5 linked regions of the Homo sapiens genome follow. The protein of the gene in region 1 purifies or fractionates together with the protein of each later gene. This does not show direct contact. Each region holds a gene or a part of one and is shown in the gene's direction. Other genes may lie near its edges.

The links.
Region 2: the proteins of SNCAIP (region 1) and HERPUD1 purify together in Homo sapiens (affinity purification with western blotting; one study listed by BioGRID). This does not show direct contact.
Region 3: the proteins of SNCAIP (region 1) and KIAA0930 purify together in Homo sapiens (affinity purification with mass spectrometry; one large-scale study listed by BioGRID and IntAct). This does not show direct contact.
Region 4: the proteins of SNCAIP (region 1) and SNCB purify together in Homo sapiens (co-immunoprecipitation; one study listed by IntAct). This does not show direct contact.
Region 5: the proteins of SNCAIP (region 1) and TTC28 purify together in Homo sapiens (affinity purification with mass spectrometry; one large-scale study listed by BioGRID and IntAct). This does not show direct contact.

Annotation. Positions count from the first base shown.
Region 1 is NC_000005.10:122,458,737-122,462,236, forward strand, and holds part of SNCAIP (synphilin-1), read left to right. Parts: exon of another isoform or gene 1-598; intron 599-3,500. UniProt on the Homo sapiens protein: Isoform 2 inhibits the ubiquitin ligase activity of SIAH1 and inhibits proteasomal degradation of target proteins. Isoform 2 inhibits autoubiquitination and proteasomal degradation of SIAH1, and thereby increases cellular levels of SIAH.
Region 2 is NC_000016.10:56,935,142-56,938,641, forward strand, and holds part of HERPUD1 (homocysteine-responsive endoplasmic reticulum-resident ubiquitin-like domain member 1 protein), read left to right. Parts: intron 1-93; coding exon 94-171; intron 172-259; coding exon 260-334; coding exon of another isoform or gene 335-336; exon of another isoform or gene 337-350; coding exon of another isoform or gene 351-356; intron 357-1,545; coding exon 1,546-1,676; intron 1,677-3,500. UniProt on the Homo sapiens protein: Component of the endoplasmic reticulum quality control (ERQC) system also called ER-associated degradation (ERAD) involved in ubiquitin-dependent degradation of misfolded endoplasmic reticulum proteins.
Region 3 is NC_000022.11:45,202,711-45,208,821, reverse strand, and holds part of KIAA0930 (uncharacterized protein KIAA0930), read left to right. Parts: intron 1-2,909; coding exon 2,910-3,029; intron 3,030-3,114; coding exon 3,115-3,192; intron 3,193-3,503; coding exon 3,504-3,605; intron 3,606-4,836; coding exon 4,837-4,977; intron 4,978-5,637; coding exon 5,638-5,832; intron 5,833-6,111.
Region 4 is NC_000005.10:176,620,535-176,626,645, reverse strand, and holds part of SNCB (beta-synuclein), read left to right. Parts: intron 1-129; coding exon 130-248; intron 249-5,342; coding exon 5,343-5,432; coding exon of another isoform or gene 5,433-5,519; exon of another isoform or gene 5,520-5,597; intron 5,598-5,802; coding exon 5,803-5,835; 3' UTR 5,836-6,111. UniProt on the Homo sapiens protein: Non-amyloid component of senile plaques found in Alzheimer disease. Could act as a regulator of SNCA aggregation process. Protects neurons from staurosporine and 6-hydroxy dopamine (6OHDA)-stimulated caspase activation in a p53/TP53-dependent manner.
Region 5 is NC_000022.11:27,980,678-27,983,840, reverse strand, and holds part of TTC28 (tetratricopeptide repeat protein 28), read left to right. Parts: coding exon 1-1,620; 3' UTR 1,621-3,163. UniProt on the Homo sapiens protein: During mitosis, may be involved in the condensation of spindle midzone microtubules, leading to the formation of midbody.

The DNA of each region.
Region 1 (3,500 bases):
TCTGCCAGGATAAGGCCTGATTCCTTCACTCAGGGAGATCATAATCAAGAGAGAATGAAAATAGGATTCAAGTAAAACATGGCAAGCTCTGTGAAAAAGGCCTAAGAGCTTCATGAAAATAGTAATCCCCAATAGCACCTTTGTACTCCACGTGTACTCCCAGTGTCTTGCTTGGTGCCTGGTGCATGATAGAGACTTCATAGATATTTGGAGAGAGGTGAAGCTAGAGAGAGGAAAAGTGGAAGAAGAGAGAAAAATATGAATAAAAAAAGGACTGAGCCTGTCTTCCCACAGCGGGGAAAAATGGTGTGTTCTTTATCAATATTGGCCTTCTGGTCACAAGTCCACCTACCCACAGTGAGTTTCCATTTGGGCACTTCAAATACAAGTTTTCATGCCTTGAACCAAAATCCATTTCTTAGTAGATGAGACTTATAGATGTGCTCTCAGTCAAAACTCTGAGGGAGATCACAGAAAATAGCAAGGTTTCCCTGTTTTGGTTATCAGCGGAAATGTCGTGCGTGCCGTGGACCATTCTACATGGATGCTGTAAGTTGCAGTCTGGTCACCATGGACTGTGGAAATCTGCAATCCATGCCTAGAAGAGTCAGCAAGTTAGAACACTTGAAAAACTGTTATTTAAATTTAAGCTTTTTTTCTTTCCAATTTTGGTCACTCAGAATGTGATTTCATATCCAAAAATGAAATAGAGGAGTAGCAAATTATCTGAATAATTCATGCCAGAATTACCCAAACACTTTCGTTCTTTGAATACTGTTAATTTGGGACTAGGTAATTGAAGGGTTCAGGGAGGATTGAATTATCCTGATATTTTTCAGATAAATGCCTCAAGTTAATATTTTACTTGGTACAGACTTAGCTCTAATCATAAGGGGTTTTGTCCTGCAGAAAGAGTGCTCATTTTAGTGTTTTTGACCACAGCACCTCTTATATTAAAGCAGAAATGCCCATCAAAGTCTAAACTTTATTATCTTTAGACTATGACCAAAACCTTCTTTTAAGTGTTCTATTTTAATTTATTGTTAAAGTGATATAGATACTTATAAGAGTAATACTAGCATTATAATAAAGACTGGATGTGCCCTGTGCCAAACCCACCCCCTTCCCTAGCCTCACTCTTTTGAATCGACCATTCACTTTTCCTTCAGGTGTTTTCTCTAGTATTCTCTATTTCTAAGTAACATGCTCATACAGATTTTCAGTTTCAAATAGTATCCCTGTTATCTACTGGCATTCTACTATAGAAAATCAAAATGATAGCACTTATAAACACTTATAAAGCACGTACAGTATCCCAGAGAATATTTCAGGTGCTTTACACATATGTACTATTTTAATCTTCTCAATGACACTATGTGGCAGATACTTTTTTTTTTTTTTAAGAAACAGGGTCTTGCTCAGTCACCTAGGCTGCAGTGCAGTCGTGTGATCTTGGCTCACAGCATCCTCTAACTTCTGGGCTCAAGAGATCCTCCCACTTCAGCCTCCTGAGCAGCTAGAACTACCAGCATGTGCCACCCCACCCAGCCAAGCAGATACTATTATTATCCTAATTTTGCGTATTGGAAACTGAGACATAGAATGATTACATATCTTGCCCAAGATTACATAGTAATGATGGCAATAAATTGTGGAGCCAGGATTTGAACTCAGTCTGGCTCCTAAATCCGTATTTTTAACAATGATCCAAATGTGTCTAGCTCCATTTTAGCATCCAACAATCCAACACTGCACCTGTTCTCTCTTGTTCTGTCTCTCTCTTTCCCTCTCTTTCCTATCTCTCACACACGCACCTACACACATGCACACATTCCTGCTTCCTCTTCCTCCCACCCCCATGAATATAGTTGTATCACTCTCAAGAGCTAAATCAGTATTCAGTGTTAATTATCATTATGGTTATTTAAATATTAATCACAAGGACTCATTATGTTGTCCTATGTTATATTTTCTTTCTCATACAATTTTATGTTTGCCATGGAAATAATTTTGGTTTCTTAATTTACAATGCGTTTCTAAACACTCTGCTGAAGACCAAACCATCTTTTAGCACCCTCAGACAGCTCAGGTGTTTGTCAGTTACTCTCTGTTCATGGAGACCCCTCCTCCTGCCCCCATCTTCACTGCTGCCTCCTGGCACTGCCACACAGCTATCATCCTGGAGTCTCTCATGCACATCATCCTGGGAATTCCTTGTGCTTCTCTCCTGTTTAGACTCTGTTTCCTGAACCTGTCTTTTCCTTTCTATTTTGTTTATTCTCATGCTTCAGTCATATATCTTCCCACCCAAGGAAGGTAAACAGTTGCTAATTTTTTTGAGACCCTGACAGTCTGAAAATATCTTCAATTTACCAGATTGAGTGTTTGACTCAGTATAGGATTCTAGGTGGGAAATTATTCTCTTTCAGAATCTTGAACACATCATTTCATTTTCTTTTGCTTCTAATGTGTCTGTTGAGAAGCCCTATTCTTCTCTGCCAATGGCTTGGAAGATTTTATGATTTCTTCTTTATCTCCAATATTTTGATTTTTTGATGCTTTGCCATGATGTGGGTCTGTTTTCATTCCTGGGCTGTGGGCACTCAGCAAGCTTTTTCAATCTGGAACCCTCAGTACTTCAGTTCTGGGAAATGTTTTGTACAATTTCTTTGAAAATTTTCTCTTCTCCAATTTCTCTGTTCCCTCTTTTGAAAATCCTCTTATTCTAATGTTAGACACACTGGACTGATCCTCAGATTTTCTAATGATTCTTCTCTATTTTTCCATACTTTGACTTTTTCTAGTTTGAATCTCTAATATATCTACTGAAACTTGCCTTTCAATCTTGCTATTGAATTTTTTATTTCTGTTATAATAATATTAATTTCCAACATCACTTTACTGGTCTTCTCTTTGTTCCTTTTTTATAGCTGTTTTTTTTTTTTTTTCTTTTTCTTTTTGAGACAGAGTCTTGCTCTGTCACCCAGGCTGGAATGCAATGGTGTGATCTTGGCTCACTGCAACCTCTGCCTCCTGGGTTCAAGTGATTCTTATGCCTCAGCCTCCATAACTGGGACTACAGCCACCACACCTGGCTAATTTTTGTATTTTTGGTAGAGACAGGGTTTCGCCATGTTGGCCAAGCTGGTCTCGAACTCCTGACCTCAACTGATCTACCTGCCTCAGCCTCCCAAAATGTTGGGATTACAGGCATGAGCCACCATGCCCGGCTTTTATAGAGTTTTATGTGCAAATCTTATTTAAATTTTTGCAGTCAAATACAAATGCGTATCTTTATCTTCCTTTTTACAATAAAGGTGTCGCACTGTACACACAGTTTTGTTTCTTGCTTTTTTTTATCTGACACGTTGGAGGACTTTATGTGTTAGTATATAGAGAGCTTCTTCATTCTTTAACATAGTTGCTATCATCTTCAGAAGTACACGGTGCTTCTAATTCCTGCATCTGGTAGTGCAAATCAGTTAGTTGGATTCCCTGAC
Region 2 (3,500 bases), on another chromosome or scaffold:
ATTCAAATTACTTGTATAAAACAGTTTATTCTGTGTTTAGGAACTTGTAGGGGTGAAATGCTGACCTGTGTTACTCTTTCTTTCCATGATCAGCGTCCAGAGGACCAGAGGTTAATTTATTCTGGGAAGCTGTTGTTGGATCACCAATGTCTCAGGGACTTGCTTCCAAAGGTACATCACTTACACATTAACTTCTGAATGTTTTTAAGCACTCACCAGGTTAGGTTCAGGTCCTTAAGTACCTTCGTATTACTTTTAGCAGGAAAAACGGCATGTTTTGCATCTGGTGTGCAATGTGAAGAGTCCTTCAAAAATGCCAGAAATCAACGCCAAGGTGTGTCTGCCTCTTCATGATGGTAACAATTTGTATCATTCAGACTTTCAGGGGAGTAATAAAAGAAGTTGGATAAAACGTTTATTGAGAGACTGTATGGTGTTATTACCAAGTAATATTTTGTTTCTTTCCTAGGAATTAGAAACTGTATTATCAACACAAAGTGATGAGTTAATAGTAGCAGATTGTTCCGTTAGTGCTGTAGTAGAAAGGTGGAGTTACATATTGCACTATCTTATGGGATATGATTTGATCTATGGTTACTGTGTATCTAGATTACTGAACTAACACTAATCGGGTTTTTATTGAATTTAGCACATAGCAAGTTTCTTCAAAGGAGTCACTAATTTTTATAAAGAGTACAAAAGTGAATATATTTCCTTTGGAAATTTTCATTGTGATTAGTTGGATAGGAAAAGATCAGAGTTTTTATCAAGTGATCTTTAAAGAATTTTTTTTTTTTAAAAATGGTCTCGCTGTGTGGCCCAGGCTTTTCTCAAACTCCTGAGGGCAAGCGATCCTCCCACCTCAGCCTCCTGAGTAGCTGGGACTACAGGCATGTGCCACTAGACCTGGCTCTAAAGACATATATGACACACGAAACCATTTATTTTTCATTTCACAATGTTTATTCACATATATGGTATTAGTATTCTAATGTAGTGATGCACTCTAAATTTGCATTATATTTCCTAGAACATCTGAACAGAGCATAGGAAATTCCCTATTTTGCCATTATCAGTTCTAACAAAAATCTTAAAAGCACTTTATCATTTCATTTCCCTGCACTGTAATTTTTTTAAATGATCAAAAACAGTATCATACCAAGGCTTACTTATATTGGAATACTATTTTAGAAAGTTGTGGGCTGGGTTGTATTTATAAATCTTGTTGGTCAGATGTCTGCAATGAGTAAATTTAGCACCATTATCAGGAAGCTTTCTCACCAATGACAACTTCATTGGAAGATTTTAATGAAAGTGTAGCATACTCTAGGGAAAAAATATGAATATTTTAGCATCTATGTATTGAAAATTATGTTGAATAAATGTCAGACTATTTTTTACATAACGTTGCTTCTGTTTAATTTTGTCACGTTCAGAGGTGGGGGGTAGGAGATGTAAGCCCTTGACAGCAAAATAATTCCTTTTGCTTGATTTCAGACAGTTGCATCAGCTCCTTTGTTCTGTGTTCATGTTACACTTATTTAGGTGGCTGAATCCACAGAGGAGCCTGCTGGTTCTAATCGGGGACAGTATCCTGAGGATTCCTCAAGTGATGGTTTAAGGCAAAGGGAAGTTCTTCGGAACCTTTCTTCCCCTGGATGGGAAAACATCTCAAGGTGAGTGTTATAATAAAGATCTTGGCTTATGCAACATGAATGTTCCTCGTTTGCATCAATTTAAGAATAAGGTATGTTTACACGTATATAATCAGAACTTTTAAACATACAGAATTTTGCTTTATAAATAGCTTCGCTTTAAAGATCTCTTATATATTTAACTTTTCTTAATACACAGCCTTTTAGTACACACAAATTTAAAAAGTAGGTAATGCATATATTGAAAAAAAAAAGAAAATGTAGGCGTTTTATCCTTCCATTGTGCTGACCGCTTGGTTGCCGTCATGATAGGAAATTAGTGCTGCTGCAGGAGAAAACAGCTGTCGTAAGCATTGTGCAGCTGCTTTGCTGAGTGGCTTTGTGCTTTATTGTAACAATGGGTGACAACAAGGGAGAGACTGTTTAAGAAGTGTCCTTCCAAAGACTTGGGGGTACTAGGAAAATTGGCCAATTTCTTATAACTATTAAAGCTTTTCTTTAGAGCAAAAGTCAGAACTAAATGCTCTGTTATTTGGATTTTTATAGCTCTTGGAATACATTGTTTTTGGGGAAAAATTCATTAACTGCAAGTTGCAATTCTGTAACTCTCCAATTCTCCGTCCCCCTTTTTCTAGTACTTTTTATACACAATATTTTATAAAGCCAGGTGTTTTAGGAATGAGTTTTTCTTCCTTTTCCCCCTTAATGGAACTTTCAAATATACACAACAGTGGGGACTGGATAATTAATCCCCACACCATCACCCAGGCCTAATAAATAACAATCAGAGTTTTACCATAGCTCATCTATTACCCTTTCCCTTTTTTTTAAAAAAAGAGTATTTAAAAGTAATTCCCAGGCATCATGTTATTTCATCCCTATATTCTTCAGTATATAACTATGAAAACCTTTTAGTTATCTTGTATATCTAGAATGCCATTATCAGATCTAACAGAAATCTTAAAAGCACTTTATCATTTTATTTCCATGCACTGTAATTTTCTTAAATGATCAAAAACAGCATCATACCAAAGCTTACTTGTATTGGAATACTATTTTAGAAATACTCTGTGTATGGAATTTAGTTAAAAGATTGTCAGCATATAAATTGGATAATTATTGGATAGAAAATTATTGGTTAGAAAAACTTAAAACTACTTCCCTTATTCTGATTCAACTATTCTTAACTTGAGAATTGAGGCTCATATTTGACTCTCTGAATCTCACCATATTTAAACTTGATTTCCTTTAACAAATATTTATTGAACAGCCAGTACATACAACTTTGCTTAAGGATATGAGTTGACCTGCAGGAATGACCACATAACCAATTTCTGATCTTTGGGCAATTCTATTATGGTTTCAATTTTGTGATGTGCTACTGAAGAAATTGACTGTGTAAGAAGCACAAAGCCAAAGATGACTCGCATACACCTGCCCTGTGAAGTTGAGGGCTGTGTGGCCTGATTAAAGAAGCATGCATTTGGCCGGGCGCGGTGGCTCACACCTGTAATCCCAGCACTTTGGGAGGCCAAGGTGGGCGGATCACGAGGTCAGGAGATTGAGACCATCCTGGCTAACACGGTGAAACCCCGTCTGTACTAAAAGTACAAAAAATTAGCCAGGTGTGGTGGCGTGTGCCCGTAGTCCCAGCTACTGGGGAGGCTGAGGCAGGAGAATGGTGTGAATCCGGGAGGTGGAGCTTGCAGTGAGCCGAGATTGCGCCATTGCACTCCAGGCTGGGCAACAGAGCGAGACTCCATCTCAAAAAAAAAAAAAAAGAAGCATGCATTTGACATCAGACCAGCTCTGAAATCCAGCCCTGCTACTTACTAGCTCAGTGAC
Region 3 (6,111 bases), on another chromosome or scaffold:
AAGCTTCCTGGGGTCACACAGTTTGCCAGCGGCGAAGCCCTGTCCCCAGTCTCACTTTTTCCTTTTTAGTAGATTGTTTTCAATATAACGTCTATACAGAAAAACACAGACGTGTACACAGTTTGATTCTTCTTAGACTGAACACCTGGTTTCACCAGCCCCCAGATACAGAGTGTGATGAGAACACCGAGGCCCCTTCACCCCACCCCAGGGCTCAACCTCCCCCTGGGCAGCTGCTGCTCTGTCTCCTCAAACTTCCCGGGCGGGTTCTGCCTGTTCTCACAGCTCCTGCATGTGGAGTCGGTGGGTTCTGCCTGTTCTTACAGCTCGTGCGTGTGGAGTCGGTGGTTCTGCCTGTTCTCACAGCTCCTGCGTGTGGAGTTGGGTTCTGCCTGTTCTCACAGCTCGTGTGTGTGGAGTTGGCGGGTTCTACCTGTTCTTACAGCTCGTGCATGTGGAGTCGGTGGTTCTGCCTGTTCTCACAGCTCATGTGTGTGGAGTCGGTGGTTCTGCCTGTTCTCACAGCTCATACATTGGAATCGGGCAGTATATGTTGTTTCAGGCTTCTTTCTCCGCATGTCATGTTTGTGAGTCATGCCTGTTGACACAGGTGGTTGTAATCTGGTCTCACTGCTGTGTAATGCCTGCAGAGTGTACCATGGCGGCCTGGCCACCCTCCTGTCAGTGGGTACCGGGCAGCTCCCAGTGTCCTCTTGGGCCTGGCTTTGGTGCGCACACGGACACCTTTCTGATGGGGAACCTGCTCTTTCGCCTGCCTGTGCTGTGGTGCTGCCCCGAACAGCCGTGTGATCGTGCCCCCGAGCCTTTCATTCACTGAGTCCACAGCGCTTTGCTGAGCAAAAGCAAATGAACAGGTCAATGAAGCGAGACCAGGAGGAACAGCAGAGTCTTGTGAACCCCAGGACTCTCAGCTCAGGGGCTCGGGGTGACTGCAGAACCATACAGGCGGTGGAAGTGGGGCCCCCCGACCCGGGGACGTCTGTTTCTCGCTCCTAGGCAAGGTTGGCCTCTTGCACCTCTTTCCATAGATCCCAGCTCTGCCTTTGGGGGGTGCAGGCCTGTGCACCTGCAAGAGGGCCCAGCAGTGCCCAGCCCCTCGGAGCCCGAGTCAGTGAGAGCACCCAGGACCGGGACCAGAGGCCCCCAGTCAGCACAGCTGCTTCAAAATTGAAAGCCAGGCTGGGCGCGGTGGCTCACGCCTGTAATCCCTGCACTTTGGGAGGCCGAGGTGGGTAGATCACTTGAGGTCAGGAGTTTGAGATCAGCTTGGCCAACATGGTGAAACCCCGTCTCTATTAAAAAAAAAAAAAAAAAATTACGTGTGGTGGCAGACGCCTATAATCCCAGGTACTTGGGAGGCTGGGGCAGGAGAATCACGTGAACCCAGGAGGTAGAGGTTGCAGTGAGCCAAGATTGTGCCACTGTACTCCAGCCCGGGTGACAAAGCAAGACTTCATCTCAAAAAAATAAAAAAATAAGAAATAAATTGAGGCCGGGTGCAGTGGCTCATGCCTGTAATCCCTGCACTTTGGGAGGCCGAGGTGGGTAGATCACTTGAGGTCAGGAGTTCGAGATCAGCCTGGCCAACATGGTGAAACCCCCTCTCTATTAAAAATACAGAAAAAAATTAGCCAGGTGTGGTGGCAGACACCTGTAATCCCAGCTACTTGGGAGGCTGGGGCAGGAGAATCACATGAACCCAGGAGGTAGAGGTTGCAGTGAGCCAAGATTGTGCCACTGTACTCCAGCCCGGGTGACAGAGCGAGACTCCGTCTCAAAACAATAAATAAGAAATAAATTGAGGCCGGGCACGGTGGCCCATGCTTGTAATCCCAGCACTTTAGGAGGCCGAGGTGGGCAGATCACCTGAGGTCAGGAGTTCGAGACCAGCCTGGCCAACATGGTGAAATCCTGTCTCTACCAAAAATACAAAAAGTAGACAGGTGTGGTGGCACGTGCCTGTAATCCCAGCTACTCAGGAGGCTGAGGCAGGAGAATCATTAGAATCCAGGAGGCGGAGACTGCAGTGAGCCAAGATGTGTTGCACTGTAGCCTGGGTGACGGATGGAGTGAGATTCTGTCTCAAAAAAAAAAAAAAATTGGAAGCCAGTCTCCCAGGAGAGGTGTAGACATGCTTTGGTTTCTCTCTGATATGTATTTATTATTGATCTTCAGTAAATTTGACTCTGATCTGTTAACATGGGGCTAATGATACCTGCATTGCAGGGTTGCTTTAAAAGGATTAATAATTTGTAAAATGTGTAGCCCAGACCCCGCCGTCCACTAAGAGCTCAGTAGGTGTCACTATTATCATTGATGCCACTTAGCAAATATGAGCTCTTTAAATCATTATGACAACTTTGAGGGGAAGATGCCCTTAGTCCATTGTACAGATGAAGAAACTGAGGCTTAGTGAGGAGAATGGATGGCCCCTGGGTCCCATCTCCCGTCGCTAGAGAACTGGGGAGCAAGAATTGGAGTTCTGGCCGGGCATGGTGGCTCACACCTGTAATCCCAGTACTTTGGGAGGTCGAGGCAGGAGGATCACCTGAGCCCAGGAGTTCAAGACCAGCCTGGACAACATGGCGAAACGCCACATCTACAAAAAGTTTTAAAAATTAGCCGGGTGTGGTAGCACGTGCCTGTGGTCCCTGTTGCTTGGGAGGCTGAAGTGAGAGGATCATTTGAGCCCAGGAGGTTGAGGCTACAGTGAGCTGTCATTGCACCACTGCTCTCTAGCCTGGGCAGCGGTGTGAGACCCTGTCTCAAAAAATAGTAAGAAAAAAGAATTGGAGTCCTTGTCCATCGTAATGCCTGCATAGTAGTCAGGGAAGAAGAAGAGCACCACAGTGGGCCCTGGGCACTCACTTCTGCTCTGGGCCTCGCAGGCAGCTGAGCCTGAGGTGGAGGTGGAGGTGTACCGGCGGGACTCCAAGAAGCTGCCAGGCCTGGGAGACCCTGACATCGACTGGGAGGAGAGCGTCTGCCTGAATCTCATCCTGCAGAAGGTATGGGGTGGGATGGGTGGGGCTGCGGATTGGCCCTGTGGGATGGCTGACCCCTCCCTGCACGCTGACCCGTGCTCTCTTCCAGCTGGACTACATGGTGACCTGTGCGGTGTGCACACGTGCTGACGGCGGGGACATTCACATCCATAAGAAGAAATCTCAGGTGAGCCCTGGCACGAGAGCCCCCAGCCTCCTAACTGCCAGTTCAGGCTGGGCGTGGCAGAGAGAGACAAGTCCTCCTGCTTGCTTCTCTGCCCTGGAGGTGAGGGGTCTGACTCCAGAAATCTGCTCAGCTCCTGGGATCCCGTATCCCATTCGAGGAGCACAGAACCAGCTTATCCCCCACATCTCCTGGTAGGTCTCTGGCTTTGGACTGGCTCTGGGCCGGGTGGCCTCCCTATACTGGCTTGGACTGGCTCTGGGCCTGTGTGCCGGGTGGGGCCTCACTTGTCCTCCAAATCTGCTTTCTTCCAGCAAGTGTTCGCGTCCCCCAGTAAACACCCCATGGACAGCAAGGGGGAGGAGTCCAAGATCAGCTACCCCAACATCTTCTTCATGATTGACAGCTTCGAGGAGGTGAGCTCTGCACAGGGCCTCTCTCCTTAGCTTCCCCTTCTCGTGAGATGGGTGTTAGGCGCTTCTCCCCGCGGCCTTAGCCTTGCAGAAAGGCATGGGTGGCTTGGAGCCGGGAAGAGTCCGGCTGAGGCAGATGTGGCTCTCTCTCTTCCCAGTGTTTGCTTGTGGGCAGGTGAATTTCCCCGGCGCAGCCTCCGTTTCCTCCTCTGTAAAATCAGTGTCATGATCATCTGTCCTACTTACTGTCAGGGCTGAAGACTAAAAGGCTCCTGAGTGGGAGGACGCCTCATAAACTCTTGCAAGAAGCACTGCCCGGGCGGGAGGAGCCATTATTAATGCTAGTAAATGATAAAGAAGCGCCTCCACGCCTGCACTGACTTGGAATCCTAGGATGTCAAAGAGGGATGGGGTTTCCGGAGTTATCTGGGCCAAGCCTTTGTTTTAAGGTTTGGGAAACGGGCTTGGGCAGAAGGAGACTCACCGAGAAACACAGGGCACTGGGAGGGCGGGGAGGGAGCCGGTCGCAGCTCACTCCCTGCTCTGCCCATTTGTGTCTCTCCTCTGTTGAGGCCCTGGTCGGGGTCCTTGTGCGCATCCAAGGTGCTCAGGGCCCTGAGGACTTAGGAGGAAGGCGTGGGCGTCTGCAGGAAAATCGCAGGCTCAGGGAGGTCATGTCCCCTCCCCAGGCACACGTAGCTCCTAGAGGGCAGAGCTGAGATTTGCGTCTAAGTCTTTGTGGCCTCGGAGCTCACAGTCTGTGCACCAGGTCCTGGGAGCAATGACTCGGGAAGGTGGCAGGATGGGGCCTGTGGCACCTTAGTCTGGTGTTGTCACCCCAGGTGGGCAGTCACCCTGCCACCACACTGAGCCTTTGGCCACACAGGAGCCTCAAAGATGTGGCAGGCAGGGCTGGGCACCCCTAGGCGGTGTGGAGGGGCCCAGACGGTGGCTGACGGTCCTGGTGAACCGTGATGAGGGTGTGCGTCTTCTGCCAGTCCCAGAGTCTCCGTAAGCGTCCCTGTCCTCCCCTGCTGCTCAGCCCCTGCCCCAGTGTGAGGCTGTTCTTGTCCTGTGGGGCTCGGAGGGCATGGGGCCACAGGAGTGTGTGACAGCCGGTTGTCCCCTGCAAAATGGGGTTTTCTGAGCAGCCCTCCCTGCCAGTTGGGCCAGGCTGTGGTGTGGGCGGTGGGAGCTGATGGTCACGTCCCTGTCTCTTTGTGTCCTGGCCCAGGTGTTCAGCGACATGACCGTAGGGGAAGGAGAGATGGTCTGTGTGGAGCTGGTGGCTAGTGACAAAACCAACACGTTCCAGGGGGTCATCTTTCAGGGCTCCATCCGCTACGAGGCGCTCAAGAAGGTGTATGACAACCGGGTGAGTGCGGGGCGGCCTCACGGGTGTTCTTCTGGGCCCGGGGACGGCGGCTCCACAGCCCACCGTGGTCCATACCATGGGGCCCCCCAGCCTGCTTGTGCATGGTAGCGGCCGCCAGGGGTACCTGCAGCCCCTCCGGGCTCCTTCTAGGCGCTCCCTGGTCCTCTTAACGTCATTCTTCATGGTCGGCCTCAGCCCATGCGGGCCACTTGCCTTCATCTGAAATGTGAGCGGGAACTTCCTCCTCAGTCTCTAGTTCCCTGGGAAGTGATGGCTGATGGTGTCGCTGTCACCTCCTCACTGTCACTTGCTTCCTGCGACTGGCCCTGGGAGTGCTCCGAGTCGCCCCCAACTAAGCAAGCAGATGTGGGCAGGCCCCTCTCCCCCAGCGGGCACCATCCGCAGCCAGCCTTGCTGCCAGCCTGGGGCCCTGTCCTCAGCCTGGTCCGTGGTTCATGGGGCGGTGGGAGGGGCACCAGGAGGGGCACCAGGCAGAGATGTGGGTCCATTCCAGCTGCCCCGCCTGCCAGCTCAGACGCTCCCTCCCGGGCAGCCCCCGCTCCTTGAGGGATGGTCGCCCTGGCTGTTCATGTCCTGGGGAGGGGCCCCATGGAGCCATCGCCACCTCCCTGACTCAGGCTGCCCCGCGCCGGCCCCCAGGTGAGCGTGGCCGCCCGCATGGCACAGAAGATGTCGTTTGGCTTCTACAAGTACAGCAACATGGAGTTTGTGCGCATGAAGGGCCCCCAGGGCAAGGGCCACGCCGAGATGGCGGTCAGCCGAGTGTCTACAGGTGACACATCCCCCTGTGGGACTGAAGAGGACTCCAGCCCAGCTTCGCCCATGCACGAGCGGGTAAGGGCTGCACAGCTGGGGGCGGGGGCTCCCATCCGTCAAGTTCACTTTCCACCGTCTCCCCCGTGCTCACGGCCCCCTGGGGACATAGGTGTTGTCATCCCCAACCACCAGTGCGCAGGCCGAGGTGCCGAGCGTGCGGAGGCCCGGACCACCCAGCCCTTCTCTTTGCCTAGCGGTTTGTAGGAGGCACTGCCGCAGGGGAGGCGTTCCTGCCTTGCAGACCTGGAGGGCTGTGCCTGGCCAAGGTCACACCGCAGGCTGGTGCTGGGCCAGAGC
Region 4 (6,111 bases), about 54 Mb from region 1:
CGGGGGAGACTCCCAAGGCTTCTGCGGGAATGCTCCGTGGGGAGGGCAGGCCCTGGGATACTACAAGGCAGGGCATCGGTGTTTCCCCCTGGCTCCCAAACCCCTTCCTCAACCCCCTCCCTGCTCCAGTGGCTGAAAAAACCAAGGAACAGGCCTCACATCTGGGAGGAGCTGTGTTCTCTGGGGCAGGGAACATCGCAGCAGCCACAGGACTGGTGAAGAGGGAGGAATTCCCTACTGATCTGAAGGTAAGCGATCCTTCTGACCCGCACATGCAGGCAAACACACACACACACACACACACACACACCAGGCACACAAATAAACCTGTCACCATCCCCGCCCCCCTAATCCTGCCACCAGCTTGGAACACAAGCCACTTTGCCTCCCATCCTGCAGGCCCGTGCTAGACTCAGCTCAGAATGCATCTGAATAAAGGCGTGCATGGGTGTGACGCTCCCGGTGATGGGGACCCAGACCTGGCTGTCTGCGTGTATCCTGCTTGCCAGCGTGACCCAGATGACTTCTGGCCACGTCTGCATGTGTCAATGATTGTTCATTCATTTCTTTTCATTCAACAAATATCCATGCCAGAGAGGAATTGTTGTAGAGGCTGCCGCAGTGAATAGGTTCCTACGTTCCTGCAGCTGACATTGTAGTGGGAGAAGATAGTAAAACGCAAGCCAGCAGGCAGGATGCTTTCCGCGGGGATAAGTGCTACAGAGAAAAGACAGAGAGGGCGATGGGACAGACAGGCAAGGGGTGAGAGGGCTATTTTGGCTGGGAAGACTTCTCTGAGGAAGAACCATTTGAGCTGACACCCAAGGGATGAGAGAGGCAGCCTTGAGATGTGTGGGAAGCGAATTTCAGGCTGTAGGAACAGCAAGTACCAAGGCCCTGAGGCAGGTTGGAGCAGGTGGGAGCTGTGCTGGGGTGGGTGTGATCTGTGCAGTTGTGTTTCCCCAGGGGAGCCCTGGGAACCACTCATGTGTGCATGGAGACAGATCCCCCTACTAGGACCCCCTGATAAGAGGGGGTTAAGAGTTGTGAGCTCTGAACCCACCTACCCCCAGCCTCAGCTGGGTTTGAATCCTAACTCCACTACTTCCTGGCTGTGTGACCCTGGGCAGTTCCCACCATGTCTCTGAACTTGATAGTTCACTTGTAAAATGCGAGTGAACACAATAGGAATCTCATGCAGATTGGAGATAATATAGATATTCTCAAAGCTTGAGTGTGTATCAATCACCAAGAGGCCAGGTTAAAATACAGATTTTTGGCCCCATCGTTAGAATTTCTGATTCAGTAGGTCTGAGGTGGGGCTGGAGGATTTGCATTTCTAACAAGTACCCGGGTGAGGTTGATGCCGCAGTTCCAGGGAGCATACTATGAGAACCATGGATATAAAGAGCTGGGTTTGCATACAGTGAATGCCCTGCAAGAGATTGTGGCCACATGATCACTCAAGCAGTCTGGGTCTGCCTGCAGGGGATCCTGTGACCACAGGCGTGCCTGGAAGTGGATCCCCCATGACATGTGTGTGCAGGCATTCGCTGTGAATGCTCTGTGTCTGTCCATGGACGCGTGCAGACCCTGCCTCCATGGGGATGGGGGCTCCTTCTGCAGCGTCTGGTTTGGGTGATCAGTGTACGTTCAGCATGAGTGCATCCACCAGGCTGTGGGAGACCCCACGCTGCCCTCCACTCCTGTCATTTTGCACAGTTGGTTCCTTCCACTGTTGGAAGTCAGGATCTTGACTCAGAAGTTCTAGTTCAAGCCCTGTCTCTGCATTTTACTATCTGTATGACTTCCCATTTGTTTTTTTTTGTTTTTTTTTTTTTTTGAGACGGAGTTTTGCTCTTGTTGCCCAGGCTGGAGTGCAATGGCACGATCTTGGCTCACTGCAACCTCTGCCTCCTGGATTCTAGCAATTCTCCTGCCTCAGCCTCCCAAGTTGCTGGAATTACAGGCACCCGCTACCACACCCGGCTAATTTTTTGTATTTTTAGTAGAGACGGGGTTTCACCATGTTGGCCAGGCTGGTCTCGAACTCCTGACCTCAGGTGATCCACCTGCCTCGGCCTCCCAGAGTGCTGGGATTACAGGCATGAGCCACTGCACCCGGCCATGACTTCCCATTTCTTATAATCATGTTACCAATAATCACTTCCATTCATTGATCTCTTTCATGAGCAGGCACTGTCCTAGATGTTTGACTCTAGATGAACTAACTCATTGACTCTTCCCAATGTGGCACCATAACCAGCCCGTTTTACAGATGAAGAGACTGAGGTTTAGAGAAGTGAAGTCACTTGCCCAAGACCCCATTTCCTGCCTGCCTCCCTTATAAGGTGGTCAGGAGGATAAGCTCAGGCCATGTCACTGGGGTCGCTTGGTGATGGCACAGGGCCAGTCCTAGTGCTGCGAGCTGGGGTGCAAAAGAGAGGCAGGTTCAGCCTGTCAGCCCCAGGCTGTGATGGGTGTTTGCACAGAACCATTTCTCTCTGGTCACCTTTCTCCTACTGGTGCTTGTTGACGCCTCAAGGCTACCCTCCCAAGGGAGCCCAAGATCATAGAGTTATAACACAGACAACAGCCCCTTGGGCCACCAGCGGCATGGGGGACTCATGCAGGCCCATGGTCTGCATTTCTGAGACTCTCTGCTTCGAGCATGCTTTCCATCCATCATCACGGAATCCTCACCAGCCTCGTTTCCCATGCAAGGCTGCTGAGATTAGAAGCAAAATGACTTGCCTGATGCCAGGTAGCTACCAGGTGGCCAGGCTGGGGTTGTTTGTTTGTTTTCTGAGATGGGGTCCTGCTATGTTGCCCAGGCTGATCTGGAACTCCTGGGCTCAAGCAATCCTCCTGCCTCAGCCCTCCAAGTATCTGGGATTACAGGCTATGGGTATTTTTTTAAGTGAACTTTTTATTGAAGTACAATGTACATGTGGAAAACTGGCAGCTCCATGAAATGTTCACAAAGGGAACTCCCCTTGTAACCAGTAGCCAGCTCGAGACAGAACACTACCCCCCAGGACCCCACCTTGTGACCCCTTCCAGTTCCTATCCCCAGGGCCAGGACTAGGGGGAGACAAAAGAGGTGTCTGGGGCACTCACTCATGGAGTCTCACTTGCATGGCCAGGAGACGGAGGCCAGGCCTCCCTAACATCTACACTCCAGGAGCCTCACCCACCTCCCCTCAGTCCTGGCCCTGCCTATCGCCCTCCAAGGGGAACTGCTTTCTGACTTTTTTTTTAGACGGAGTCTCGCCCTGTTGCCCAGGCTGGAGTGCAGTGCCACAATCTCAGCTCACTGAAACCTTCACCTCCTGGGTTCAAGCAATGCTCTTGCCTCAGCCTCCTGAGTAACTGAGACTACAGGCGTGCACCACCATGCCCAGCTAATTTTTGTATATTTAGTAGAGATGGGTTTCACCATGTTGGCCAGGCTAGTCTCAAACTCCTGACCTCAAGTGATCTGCCCACCTTGACCTCCCAAAATGCTGGGAGTGGTAACGGGCGTGAGCCACTATGCCTGGCCTTGCTTCCTGGCTTCTATCAGCACAACACTAGTTGGGTGTTTTTTGACTTCTTGTAAATGTTATCATGAGGCTGGGCACAGTGGCTCATGCCTGTAATCCCAGGCATGAGGCCGAGGTGGGCAGATCACCTGAGGTCAGGAGTTTGAGAACAGCCTGACCAACATGGCGAAACCCCATCTCTACTAAAAATACAAAAATTAGCCAGATGCAGTGGCACATGCCTGTAATCCCAGCTACTTGGGAAGCTGAGGCAGGAGAATCGCTGGAACCCAGGAGGCTGAGGTTGCGGTGAGCCGAGATCACACCACTGCGCACCAGCCTGGGCCACAGAGTGAGACTGTCTCAAAAAAAAAAAAAAAAAAAAAAAAGTCATCATGAAGGCCATGCTCTTCTGTTCTGTATCTGGCTTCCTCCATTCATCAGGAAGCTTGTGAGACTCAGCCCTGCTCTTGTATGCATTGTTGTTCTTCATTCTTGTTATGTAGTATTCCATTGTGTCGTTAGGTCACAAGGCACACATCCATTCTACTGATGTTGGACATTTGGGTTGTTTCCAAACAATGTGCTCAAGCTGGCTTGTTTTGTTTTGTTTTGTTTTGTTTTGTTTTGTTGAGATGGAGTCTCACTCTGTTACCTAGGCTGGAGTGCAGTGGCGTGATCTTGGCTCACTGCAAACTCCGCCTCCCGGGTTCAAGCGATTCTCCTGCCTCAGCCTCCCAAGTAGCTGGGACTAGAGGCACGCACCACAGTGCCCAGCTATCAAGCTGGCATTTTTAGCACTACATTCCATCCCTGGGTTCTGGTCATAGCTGGGTGACTTGGGGGCAAACTAACATTTCCCCACCTCCTGGGCCTTGGCATACGCATCTGTGCAGTGGGGAAATGAGCCAGGTCAGGAGCTGGAAACTCATGTGCCCACAGGGCCCACTTAGACAGGTAATGTGAAGGAGCTGACGCTGCCTGGATGGAGCTGGGACACCCAGGGTGCAGACGTGGTCAGGGCAGGCTTTCCCCAGCACCAATGCTCCGGGATCCCAGGCGTGTGCCAGCCCCACATGAGGCACTGCACAGGCTGTGCATGGATCCTAAGCTATCGCGTGTGCTTGTGTGTGCAGCCAGCTCAGTCCCATGTTTGTTCACATACATGTGGTCACCTGCAGGTGGCTGGCCATGTGTCTGGCAGCCCGCCCACATGCATGCCCGCTGGTCTGCGCCTGTCTGGGCAGCAGACGCAGCGGGTGGGGGGGAGAGTCTTAGCTCACACATCCAAGCAACACCACGAGCTGTGGCTTCCAGCTTATCTTAAAATAGCAACAGCTGAAGAAACGAGGCCACACAGGGCCCGGGGGAGGGATGAGTGGAAGGTGGCGGGGGAATGGCTCAGAGCCCCTGCCCAGCCCTGTCCCTGAGCCTCCAGCTCCCTTCAGCCCAGGGGAGCCTGAGGGTTATCTCTGGGGTCCCGATGCCCAGCACAGAGCCTGACACAAAGGATGAGGCATAAGCTGGTGACTGAGTATCCAAATGGTGGAAGTGTGGAGGCTGCCAGGCATTGGGGGAGCGGCGTGGAGAGCCAGCTCCCACTCCATGCTGCCACTTCAACTGTGATTCGGGGGAATTTCCCCCTTCACCTCCATCCCACTTCCAAGGCACTCCAAATAAATAACTGAATTAGAAATTATCCTTGCTCTGCCAACCCACCCTAGCCTTCCCCACTCCAACCCACCCAAAGCTTACCACTGTGGGAATTTGGGGGGCATCCTGGCTGTCCTCACGAGTCCTGACCTTTTCTGCCCACAGCCAGAGGAAGTGGCCCAGGAAGCTGCTGAAGAACCACTGATTGAGCCCCTGATGGAGCCAGAAGGGGAGAGTTATGAGGACCCACCCCAGGTGAGGGGGCAGCAGGGCTGGGCGGGACTTTGGGAATCCAGGATGATTGCTGCCGTCCCTAGCTGGGGTGGGACATCCCTGGCATGAGATGGTTGGGCCAGGGAGCTTGACATCCCTCTTCTAGAACCCAGGCCCCAGGAGGTGGGAGCAGGGAGGAGAGGGCAGATAGGGTCTAGCGCTGGGCCCCAGGCACACCTGCCCAAGAATTCTCTGTTGTCCCCAACTTCCAGGCTCCTCCCCTGCCCAGGAAAAGGGGAATGTGCTATTCCTCCTTCAGGGAGAGGGTTCTTGGGCCGGGGCTTGGCCACTTGGTCTCAAACTCCTCCTCCTTTTTGCTCTTCTCTACTCCACCCCCATCCCGGTGATGCAGGAGGAATATCAGGAGTATGAGCCAGAGGCGTAGGGGCCCAGGAGAGCCCCCACCAGCAGCACAATTCTGTCCCTGTCCCTGCCCCGCCCCCCAGAGCCAGGGCTGTCCTTAGACTCCTTCTCCCCAATCACGAGATCTTCCTTCCGCTCTGAGGCAACCCCCTCGGAGCCTGTGTTAGTGTCTGTCCATCTGTCTGTCCTACCCGCCCGCGTCCAACCCCGGGGCATGGACAGGGCCAGGGTTGCGGTCGCGGCTGGGAGCCTCGCCCCTCCAGTGTTGCCTCCTCCCATCCAGCGTCTGCGCGGATGT
Region 5 (3,163 bases), on another chromosome or scaffold:
CTACCCAAGCGCCTCAGCCTTGACAGCTCCTCCTCCCTCGAGTCTCTTGCTTCTGCTCAGTCTGTTTCCAACGCCCTGCCCTTGGGTTACCAGCAACCCCCCTTCTCTCCCACCGGTGCGGACAGCATCGCCTCAGATGCCATCTCTGTGTACAGTCTGAGCTCCATTGCCTCCTCAATGAGCTTTGTCTCCAAACCCGAGGGTGGATCAGAGGGTGGAGGCCCCGGAGGACGGCAGGACCATGACCGGTCCAAGAACGCTTACCTGCAGAGATCCACCCTGCCTAGGAGCCAGCTGCCTCCCCAGACCCGCCCTGCAGGCAACAAAGATGAAGAAGAATATGAAGGGTTTTCTATCATCAGTAACGAGCCCTTGGCGACCTACCAAGAAAACCGAAACACATGCTTCTCACCAGACCACAAACAACCCCAACCTGGGACAGCCGGAGGCATGAGAGTCTCGGTGAGCTCCAAAGGGAGCATCAGCACTCCAAATTCTCCAGTGAAAATGACTCTGATTCCCAGCCCCAACTCACCCTTCCAAAAGGTGGGAAAACTAGCAAGCTCAGATACAGGAGAATCAGACCAGTCTAGCACAGAAACGGACAGTACCGTGAAATCCCAAGAAGAAAGCAACCCAAAACTGGATCCACAAGAGTTAGCCCAGAAAATTCTGGAGGAGACACAGAGTCATCTCATTGCGGTGGAGCGTCTTCAGAGGAGCGGCGGCCAGGTGAGCAAGAGTAATAACCCTGAAGACGGCGTTCAGGCGCCCAGCAGCACTGCTGTCTTCAGAGCGTCAGAAACCAGTGCGTTCAGCAGGCCTGTTCTCTCCCATCAGAAGAGTCAGCCATCACCAGTCACTGTTAAACCAAAGCCCCCAGCCAGGAGCTCCTCCCTGCCCAAGGTGAGTTCCGGATATAGCAGCCCCACCACCTCAGAGATGTCCATCAAAGACAGCCCGAGCCAGCACAGTGGCCGGCCATCGCCCGGCTGCGACTCACAGACTTCCCAGCTGGACCAGCCTCTCTTTAAACTGAAGTACCCCAGCTCTCCTTACAGCGCTCACATTTCCAAATCACCAAGGAACATGTCCCCAAGCTCCGGCCACCAGTCTCCTGCTGGCAGTGCACCCTCCCCAGCTCTCTCCTACTCCTCAGCTGGATCTGCTCGCTCAAGTCCAGCAGACGCTCCCGACATAGACAAACTGAAAATGGCAGCCATTGATGAAAAGGTGCAGGCTGTCCATAACCTGAAGATGTTCTGGCAGAGCACACCCCAGCATTCCACAGGGCCAATGAAGATCTTCCGGGGGGCTCCTGGCACGATGACTTCCAAAAGGGATGTCCTCAGTCTGTTGAATTTGTCACCACGGCACAATAAGAAGGAGGAGGGAGTGGATAAGCTTGAACTGAAGGAGCTGTCCCTGCAGCAGCATGACGGAGCTCCACCGAAAGCCCCTCCCAACGGACACTGGCGCACCGAGACCACCTCGCTGGGCTCACTGCCGCTGCCCGCCGGCCCTCCCGCCACAGCCCCCGCGCGCCCTTTGAGGCTTCCTTCTGGAAATGGCTACAAGTTCCTGTCTCCAGGAAGATTTTTCCCTTCTTCCAAATGCTAAAGCATCTTTTATACCCACTGACTCTGAGCAGCCTGCAGATGGGGGCCTGGCGTTTGCTTCAGCCCTTCCCTGAGTGCAGTCCCCCCACAGCCACCAGCACCCTCATGATGCTGTGCTCTGCAGGCGAGGGGCACCACCACGTCCAAAGGCTGCCACACACACTGGTGGCTTTTCTGGGCCACATTCACCAAAAGCCAGGACTTCTGTGGGGCTGGTACAGGAGGCTCATGGAATTTCCTACACACTTCACCAAATGTTTGTTTACCTTTGAACTCCCTGCTTCTCATCTTTGATATGATTCTTCACCAGGATTTTGTACAAAAATGATCATGGTTCTGGGGTGGGGAGAGGAAAGGGAGCACATATTTTGCTAAGAGGTATATATGCAGTACCTTTTATACACAGAAATACAAATAGAGCTTTTTCTAAGGCTTTCGGTTGCTGGTTGGGGGTGGGATATATGAAATTTCAGTTGAATTCTACAGGAAAGTGTTATATTAGCCAAAAACAGAAAAATGGTTTTTAAAATGCCAATGATTTGTAATTAAATTGTAGCAATTTTGGTCTCATGATAGTGTAATATCTCAGCAACAATGCAATAATTCACATTGAAACAGCGCTTCCATTCTGAACTCTGCTCTGCAAATGTCTTTTGGGTCCCGCTGTCAACCAAACTTGAATTTTCTTAAAAAAAAAATTATGTAACTCTTATCCAGGCATTTTAGAACTATGCAATTGTGATTTAAAATGCAACTTTGTGCTTTTAAAACATTATTGACCTTTTTTGTATATGGATAAACAACTTGGTTTTATTATCAATAGTACTTTGCATTTATAGCTATTATTTTTAAAAGCTCAAAAAGTTTTTTAAAATGTCAAATTTTGAATAGTCATCAATAAGTAATTATCAAGTTTGGAAGGAAAGGTTGAAATGACTCCGTTTCCTTATAAGCAAAAAAAAAAAAAAAAAAAAAAAAAAAAAAAAAAAAATTTCCATGGCTAACTAGATTTAACCAGAATCCCGCCTTCCAGGCTCCTGTTCCCTTTTATTAGCTGCTGAATTTTATTCCCTTTTCCCAACTCCAGGTCCCTCAGTTGTCTTATATCTAAATCCTTTGCCAGGTCCCCACAATCCCAGCACCTGCCTCTGTGAGCTGCCCCCAGGCCCTCACCTTGGCCCTGGCCAGCCTCCTGTGCTCCTGCTGTCTGAAGGACTGGCCCCTCCCCCACTGCTGAAGCCACACGTACAGATCCTAAGCAACAGGGCCTTTTGCTGGGACGTATGCCTGGATTATGGCCAACCGGGAAGAGAGAGATGTATCTTAAAAAGTGGAGGTGGACTTCTCCTACAGCTCTGACGGTAACTTAAATTGTTGCCAGCTTGAGGCAAGACAAGGGAATCATCTAGTTAGGGGTAACCATTAATTTATTTTATAAAGAAAGGAAATGCTGAAAGTCGTATTAGTACTGAGTTTAGTTGGAGAATTTAGATAAGTAAGTATCTTTTAGGTAATTCTAAAATTAAAATCCTACCCACCTCACT